2 linked regions of the Homo sapiens genome follow. The protein of the gene in region 2 interacts with the protein of the main gene of each other region in a pairwise test. Each region holds a gene or a part of one and is shown on either strand. Other genes may lie near its edges.

Region 1 (3,750 bases), on a different chromosome or scaffold from region 2:
TGCTTGAACCTGGGAGGCAGAGGTTGCAGTGAGCTGAGATCACGCCATTGCACTCCAGCTTGGGTGACAAGAGTGAAACTCTATCTTAAAAACAAACAAACAAACAAAATCTCCACCAGATGCTTGGGCCGGGCGTGTGGCTCATGCCTGTAATCCCAACACTTTGGGAGGCTGAGGCTGGCAGATCACCATAGGTCAGGAGTTCAAGACTAGCCTGGCCAACATGGTGAAACCCCATCTCTACTAAAAATACAAAAAAAAAAAAAAAAAAAAAAAGAAAGCCGGGCGCGGTGGCTCATGCCTGTAATCCTGGCACTTTGGGAGGCCAGGGGGATGGATCACCTGAGGTCAGGAGTTTGAGACCAGCCTGGTCAACATGTTGAAGCCATCTCACTAAAAATACAAAACTTAGCTGGGCGTGGTGACATGTACCTGTAATCCCAGCTACTCGGGAGGCTGAGGCAGGAGAATTGCTTGAACCTGGGAGGCAGAGGTTGCAGTGTGCTGAGATCACGCCATTGCACTGCAGCTTGGGTGACAATAGTGAAACTCTGTCTCAAAAACAAAAAACAAAAAACAAAAACTCCACCAGATGCTTGGGCCGGGTGCAGTGGCTCATGCCTGTAATGCCAGCACTTTGGGAGGCTGAGGTGGGCGGATCACCTTAGGTTCGAGACCAGCCTGGCTGACAAGGTGAAACCTCGTCTCTACTAAAAACAAAAGTTAGCTGGGTGTGGTGGCATGCACCTGTAATCCCAGCTACTCAGGAGGCTGAGGCAGGAGAATCGTTTGAACCCGGGAGGCGGAGGTTGCAGTGAGCTGAGATCTTGCGACTGCCCTCTAGCCTGGGCAACAGAGTGAGACTCCGTCTCAAAACAAACAAACAAAAAGTAAATAGCTGGCATTACAACCATTCTTCTTACCTTTTTGTAGGTTGCAGGTTTTATATTTGAGCTCTTCATAATATTTTTCTTAAGGATATATTAATATAATGTATATTTTCCTATTTTTTCCTGCTATGTAAACACTGCTGTTTGGTCAGATGAAGGAGGGAGCCCTGCCCTAGGACAGGGGAGGGGAGGAGGAAGGCGACCTCAACCCAGGACCCCTGTTCACCCTGGGATCAGGCCCTCACCCAGGTAGCTCCTCTGTTTGAAAGCTCTAAGCCCTTCCACTGTCCTCTTCAGGGCTACCCCGCCACACAGCCTCTCCTTGTCTTGTCTTCCCTTTGGCGGGGTCACACCCGCACCTGGGTCACTGCCCCCTTCCTCTGGTCGAGGGTTGGGGGGAGTGTCCCCTCCTCCCTCGGCCGGAGTCACAGTTCCACACGCAGGGGTCCTTCCTGCCCCTCTCACCTGGGGTCACAACCCCCCTCCCTCGGAGGAGGGAGGTCACCGGCCACAGGCGGGGGCCTCAGTTTCCCACGCTACAGGGCTCACACGTGTCTGGCCTGCGACGCGCTCTCCCTTCGCCGGGGTCCCAGTTTCCCGCCCAGGAAACCTCGGTCCCTCCTCCGAGGCCGCCGGGCCCTCCTCCAGAGTCCCGCCAGTCCCCCAGAGTCCAGGCCAGTCCCCGCCGTCACCCGGTGCGAGCCCGCGAGAGGCCTAGTGCAGCTGGCAGCCCCGCCCCGGCACCCGCCTGCTCTTCTCGCGGGTCCGGACCGCGAGCGCGGGGGCCGACGGGTCGCCGCTGCGCCGGGCCGGGATGGCGGCCACCGCGCTGCTGGAGGCCGGCCTGGCGCGGGTGCTCTTCTACCCGACGCTGCTCTACACCCTGTTCCGCGGGAAGGTGCCGGGTCGGGCGCACCGGGACTGGTACCACCGCATCGACCCCACCGTGCTGCTGGGCGCGCTGCCGTTGCGGAGCTTGACGCGCCAGGTGAGCCGGGCCGGGGAGCCCGGGCCCCTGCCCCGTCCCCGCCGCTCCGTCCCTGTCGGGCCGCTGGGGTCTCCACCGTCTTTGCTGAGCCACCTCTTTGCCTCGGCAGCTGGTACAGGACGAGAACGTGCGCGGGGTGATCACCATGAACGAGGAGTACGAGACGAGGTTCCTGTGCAACTCTTCACAGGTGAGGGACCGGGCCGAGGGGCAGGCTCGGGGGCCCGCTCCCCCTCGCCCACCGCCCTGAGCCTGGGACGGCTAGAGAAGTGTGGGGGAGGTCACCATGCACCGGAGCCAGGTGTCTCAAGCTGCTTTGCCTCCGGTCTGTGCCTCTAAATGGCACCTGGAGGTAGGCTAGAAGCTGTGAAAGGCGTTTATTTAAAAGTTCAAGTTGGGCCGGGCGCGGGGACTCACGCCTGTAATCCCAGCACTTTGGGAGGCGGGAGGAGGAGGCGGGCAGATCACTTGAGCCCAGGAGTTCCTGACCAGCCTGGGCAACATGGCGAGGCCCCCGTCCCTACAAAAATACAAAAAGTAGCCGGGAGTGGTGGCGTGCGCCTGTACTCCCAGCTACTTGGGAGGCTAAGGCAGGAGAATCACTTTAGCCCGGGAGGTGGAGGTTGCAGTGAGCCGACATCTCGCCATTGCATTCCAGCCCAGCCTTGGGCGACAGGAGTGAAACAATGTCTCAAAAAAAAAAAAAAAAAAAGTGGAAGTTGACAAAGCCTGATTTCTCCTTTGTGAACAAATGTAATGTATTCTTATTTCGGTAACCAAAATCAGAAACTAAAATTGAAAGGCAACTTTCCCATGCCTTCCTGATTTCATTCATTCTTTCTATACTTTGAGCTCTGAGTATGGGTCAGCATTCCCAGTGTTAGGGATTCCAGATGAAGGCCCTGCCAACTGTAAGACGAAAAGCACCCCCTTAACACTCTCCCCTCCCCAGATTTTTCATAAAACTATCCATTGAAAACTGTAGAGTTCATTTGGCTCTGATTTGGGGGAATTTTTAGTCATATATTAGAAATCATGGTGGAACTCCAAAGTTCTCTCATAACAAAGTTTAGGCCTAAAACATAACTTTCATTAAATGTGACTGGCCTGTTTGTGGAATCTTCCACAATGGTTATTAGAAGATGTTATCTACAATCTGAGCTATTTGATTTTTTTTTAATGTTGCCCTATCTTTATAGCGTTTGGCATCTAATAGCACTAAACAATTATCTTTCTCATTTGTTTTACTGATATAGCATGATGAAGATACTATTATTTCAACCTGAGGATTTTTTTGAAACCTTGAAAATATTTGTGACTTGGCCAGGCGTGGTGGCTCTCACACCTGTAATCCCAGCACTTTGGGAGGCTGAGGTGGGTGGATCACCTGAGGTCAGGAGTTTGAGATCAGCCTGGCCAAAATGGTGAAACCCCGTCTGTACTAAAATCACACAAAAAAATTAGCCGGGCGTGGTGGCAGGCGCCTGTAATCCTAGCTACTTGGGAGGCTGAGGCAGGAGAATCGCTTGAACCCGGGAGGCAGAAGTTGCAGTGGGCCGAGATTGCACCACTGCACGCCAGCCTGGGCGACAGAGTGAGTCTCCGTCTCAAAAAAAAAAAAGAATTACTGATCTTCATTTAGAACCATAAAGTCTCTGATACTCATTATTAAGAGGTTAATAACAAGAGTAGCTGGAGCATATCTGAAGTCTTAAAGCATAAAGTTTGCCCAGTTGCCAGAGACCTTATTTCTATTTCTTTTCTTTTTTTTTTTTTTTTTTTGAGATGGAGTCTCACTCCCTTGCCCAGGCTGGAGTGCAATGGTGCAATCTCAGCTCACTGCAACCTCTGCCTCCCAGTTCAAGTGATTCT
Region 2 (3,750 bases):
CCTCAGGTGGGTCCCTGACCCCTGTGCCTCCTGACTGGGAGACACCTCCCAGCAGGGGTCGACAGACACCTCATACAGGAGCGCTCCAACTGGCCTCTGGTGGGTGCCCCTCTGGGATGAAGCTTCCAGAGGAAGGAACAGGCAGCTGTTCTGCAGCCTTTGCTAGTGATACCCTGGCAAACAGGGTCTGGCATGGACCTCCAGCAAACTCCAGCAGACCTGCAGCAGAGGGGCCTGTTAGAAGGAAAGCTAACAAACGAAAGGAATAGCATCAACATCAACAAAAAGGACGTCCACACAGAAACCCCATCCAAAGATCACCAACATCAAAAACCAAAGGTAGATAAATCCATGAAGATGAGGAAAAACCAGTGCAAAAAGGCTGAAAATTGCAAAAACCAGAATGTCTCTTCTACTCCAAAGGATCACAACTCGTTGCCAGCAAGGGAACAAAACTGGACAGAGAATGAGTTTGACGCATTGACAGAAGGAGGCTTCAGAAGGTAGGTAATAAACTCCTCTGAGCTAAAGGAGCATGTTCTAACCCAATGAAAGGAAGCTAAGAACCTTGAAAAAAGATTAGAGGAATTGCTATCTAGAATAACCATTTTAGAGAAGAATATAAATGACCTGATGTAGCTGAAAAACACAGCACAAGAACTTCCTGAAGCATACACAAGTATCAATAGCCGAATTGATCAAGTGGAAGAAAGGATATCAGAGATTGAAGATCAACTTAATGAAATAAAGTGTGAAGACAAGATTAGAGAAAAATGAATGAAAAGGAATGAACAAAGCCTCCAAGAAATATGGGACTATGAGAAAGACCAAATCTACATTTGATTGGTGTACCTGAAAGTGACGGGGAGAATGGAACCAAGTTGGAAAACACTCTTCAGGATATTATCTGGGAGAACTTCCCCAACCTAGCAAGAGAGGCCAACGTTCAAACTCAGGAAATACAGAGAACACCACGAAGATATTCCTCGTAGAGAGCAACCCAAGACTCATAATCATCAGATTCACCAAGGTTGAAATGAAGGAAAAAATGTTAAGGGCAGCCAGAGAGAAAGGTCGGGTTACCCACAAAGGGAAGCCCATCAGACTAACAGCACATCTCTCTGCAGAAACCCTACAAGCCAGAAGAGAGTGGGGTCCAATATTCAACATTCTTAAAGAAAAGAATTTTCAACCCAGAATTTTATATCCAGCCAAACTATGCTTCATAAGCAAAGGAGAAATGAAATCCTTTACAGACAAGCAAATGCTGAGAGATTTTGTCACCACCAGGCCTGCCCTACAAGAGCTCCTGAAGGACGTACTACACACGGAAAGGAAAAACCGGCATCAGCCACTACAAAAATGTACCAAATTGTAAAGACCATCAACACTATGAAGAAACTGCATCAACTAATGGGCAAAATAACCAGCTAGCATCATAATGACAGGATCAAATTCACACATAACAATATTAAGCTTAAATGTAAACAGGCTAAATGCCCCAATTAAAAGATGCAGACTGGCAGATTGGCTAAAGGTCAAGACCCAACAGTGTGCTGTATTTAGGAGACCCATCTCACGTGCAGAGACACACATAGACTCAAAATAAAGGCATGGAGGAATATTTACAAGCAAATGGAAAGCAAAAAGAAGCAAGCGTTGCAATCCTAGTCTCTGATAAAACAGACTTTAAACCAACAATGATCAAAAAAGACAAAGAAGGGCATCATTACATAATGGTAAAGGGATCAACACAACAAGAAGAGATAACTATCCTAAACATATATGCACCCAATAAAGGAGCATCCATATTCATAAAGCAAGTTCTTAGAGACCTACAAAGAGACGTAGACTCCCACACAATAATAGTTGGAGACTTTTACACCCCACTGTCAATATTAGACAGATTAACGAGACAGAAAATTAACAAGGATATTCAGGACTTGAACTCAGCTCTGGACCAAGCAGACCTAATAGACATCTACAGAACTCTCAACCCCATACCAACAGAATATACAGTCTTCTCAGCACCACATCACATTTATTCTAAAATTGACCACATAATTGAAAGTAAAACACTCCTCGGCAAACGCAAAAGAACAGAAATCACAACAAACAGTCTCTCAGGCCACAGTGCAATCAAATTAGAACTCAGGAATAAGAAACTCACTCAAAACCGCACAACTGCATGGAAACTGAACAACCTGCTCTTGAATGACTACTGAGTAAATAATGAAATTAAGGCAAAAATAAATAAGTTTTTTGAAACCAATGAGAACAAAGACACAACCTACCAGTATCTCTGGGACACAGCTAAAGCAGCGTTTAGAGGGAAATTTATAGCACTAAATGCCCAAAGGAGAAAGCAGGAAAAATCTAGAATTGACACCCTAACATCACAATTAAAGAACTAGAGAAGTGAGAGCAAACAAATTCAAAAGCCAGCAGAAGACAACAGATAACTAAGATCAGAGCAGAACTGAAGGAGGACACCAAAAAATCCTTCAAAAAATCAATGAATCAAGGAGCTGGTTTTTGAAAAGATCAACAAAATAGCTAGACCACTAGCCAGACTAATAAAGAAGAAAAGACAGGAGAATCAAATAGACACAATAAAAAATTATAAAGCAGATATCACCACTGATCCCACAGAAATACAAACTACCATCAGAGAATATTATAAACACCTCTACACAAATAAACTAGAAAATCTAGAAGAAACAGATAAATTCCTGGACACATACACCCTCCCAAGACTAAATCAGGAAGAAGTCAAATCCCTGAATAGAACAATAACAAGTTCTAAAATTGAGGCAGTAATTAATAGCCTACCAACCAAAAAAAGGCCCAGGACCAGACAGATTCACAGCCTAATTCTACCAGAGGTACAAAGAGGAGCTGGTACCATTCCAAACAATAGAAACAATAGAAAAAGAGGGACTCCTCCCTAACTCATTTTGAGTCCAGCATTATCCTGATACCAAAACCTGCCAGAGACACAACAAAAAAAGAAAATTTCAGGCCAATATCCCTGATGAACATCAATGCGAACATCCTCAATAAAATACTGGCAAACCGAATCCAGCAGCACATCAAAAAGCTTATCCACCACCATCAAGTCGGCTTCATCCCTGGGATGCAAGGCTGGTTCAACATATGCAAATCAATAAACATAATCCATCACATAAACAGAACCAATGACGAAAACCACATGATTATCTCAATAGATGCAGAAAAGGCCTTCAATAAAATTCAACACCCTTTCATGCTAAAAACTCTCAATAAACTAGGTATTGATGGAATGTATCTCAAAATAACAAGACCTATTTATGACACACCCACAACCAATATCATGTTGAATGGACAAAAGCTGGAAGCATTCCCTTTGAAAACTGGCACAAGACAAGAATGCCGTCTCTTACCACTCCTATTCAACATAGTATTGGAAGTTCTGGCCAGGGCAATCAGGCAAGAGAAAGAAATAAATGGTATCCAAATAGGAAGAGAGAGAGTCAAATTATCTCTGTTTGCAGATGACATGATTGTATATTTAGAAAACCTCATCATCTCAGCCCAAAATCTCCTTAAGCTGATAAGCAACTTCAGCAAAGTCTCAGGATACAAAATCAATGTGCAAAAATCACAAGCATTCCTATACACCAAGAACAGACAAAAAGAGAGCCAAATCATGAGTGAACTCCGATTCACAATTGCTTCAAAGAGAATAAAATACCTAGAAATACAACTTAC

The links. The genes of interacting proteins can lie anywhere in the genome.
Region 1: the proteins of RGS20 (region 2) and PTPMT1 interact in binary tests that used the Homo sapiens proteins (3 or more experiments, as listed by UniProt).

What each region holds. Positions count from the first base shown.
Region 1 is NC_000011.10:47,563,919-47,567,668, forward strand, and holds the start of PTPMT1 (phosphatidylglycerophosphatase and protein-tyrosine phosphatase 1), read left to right. Parts: upstream 1-1,680; 5' UTR 1,681-1,704; coding exon 1,705-1,878; coding exon of another isoform or gene 1,879-1,987; coding exon 1,988-2,068; intron 2,069-3,750. UniProt on the Homo sapiens protein: Lipid phosphatase which dephosphorylates phosphatidylglycerophosphate (PGP) to phosphatidylglycerol (PG).
Region 2 is NC_000008.11:53,932,790-53,936,539, forward strand, and holds part of RGS20 (regulator of G-protein signaling 20), read left to right. Parts: intron 1-3,750. UniProt on the Homo sapiens protein: Inhibits signal transduction by increasing the GTPase activity of G protein alpha subunits thereby driving them into their inactive GDP-bound form.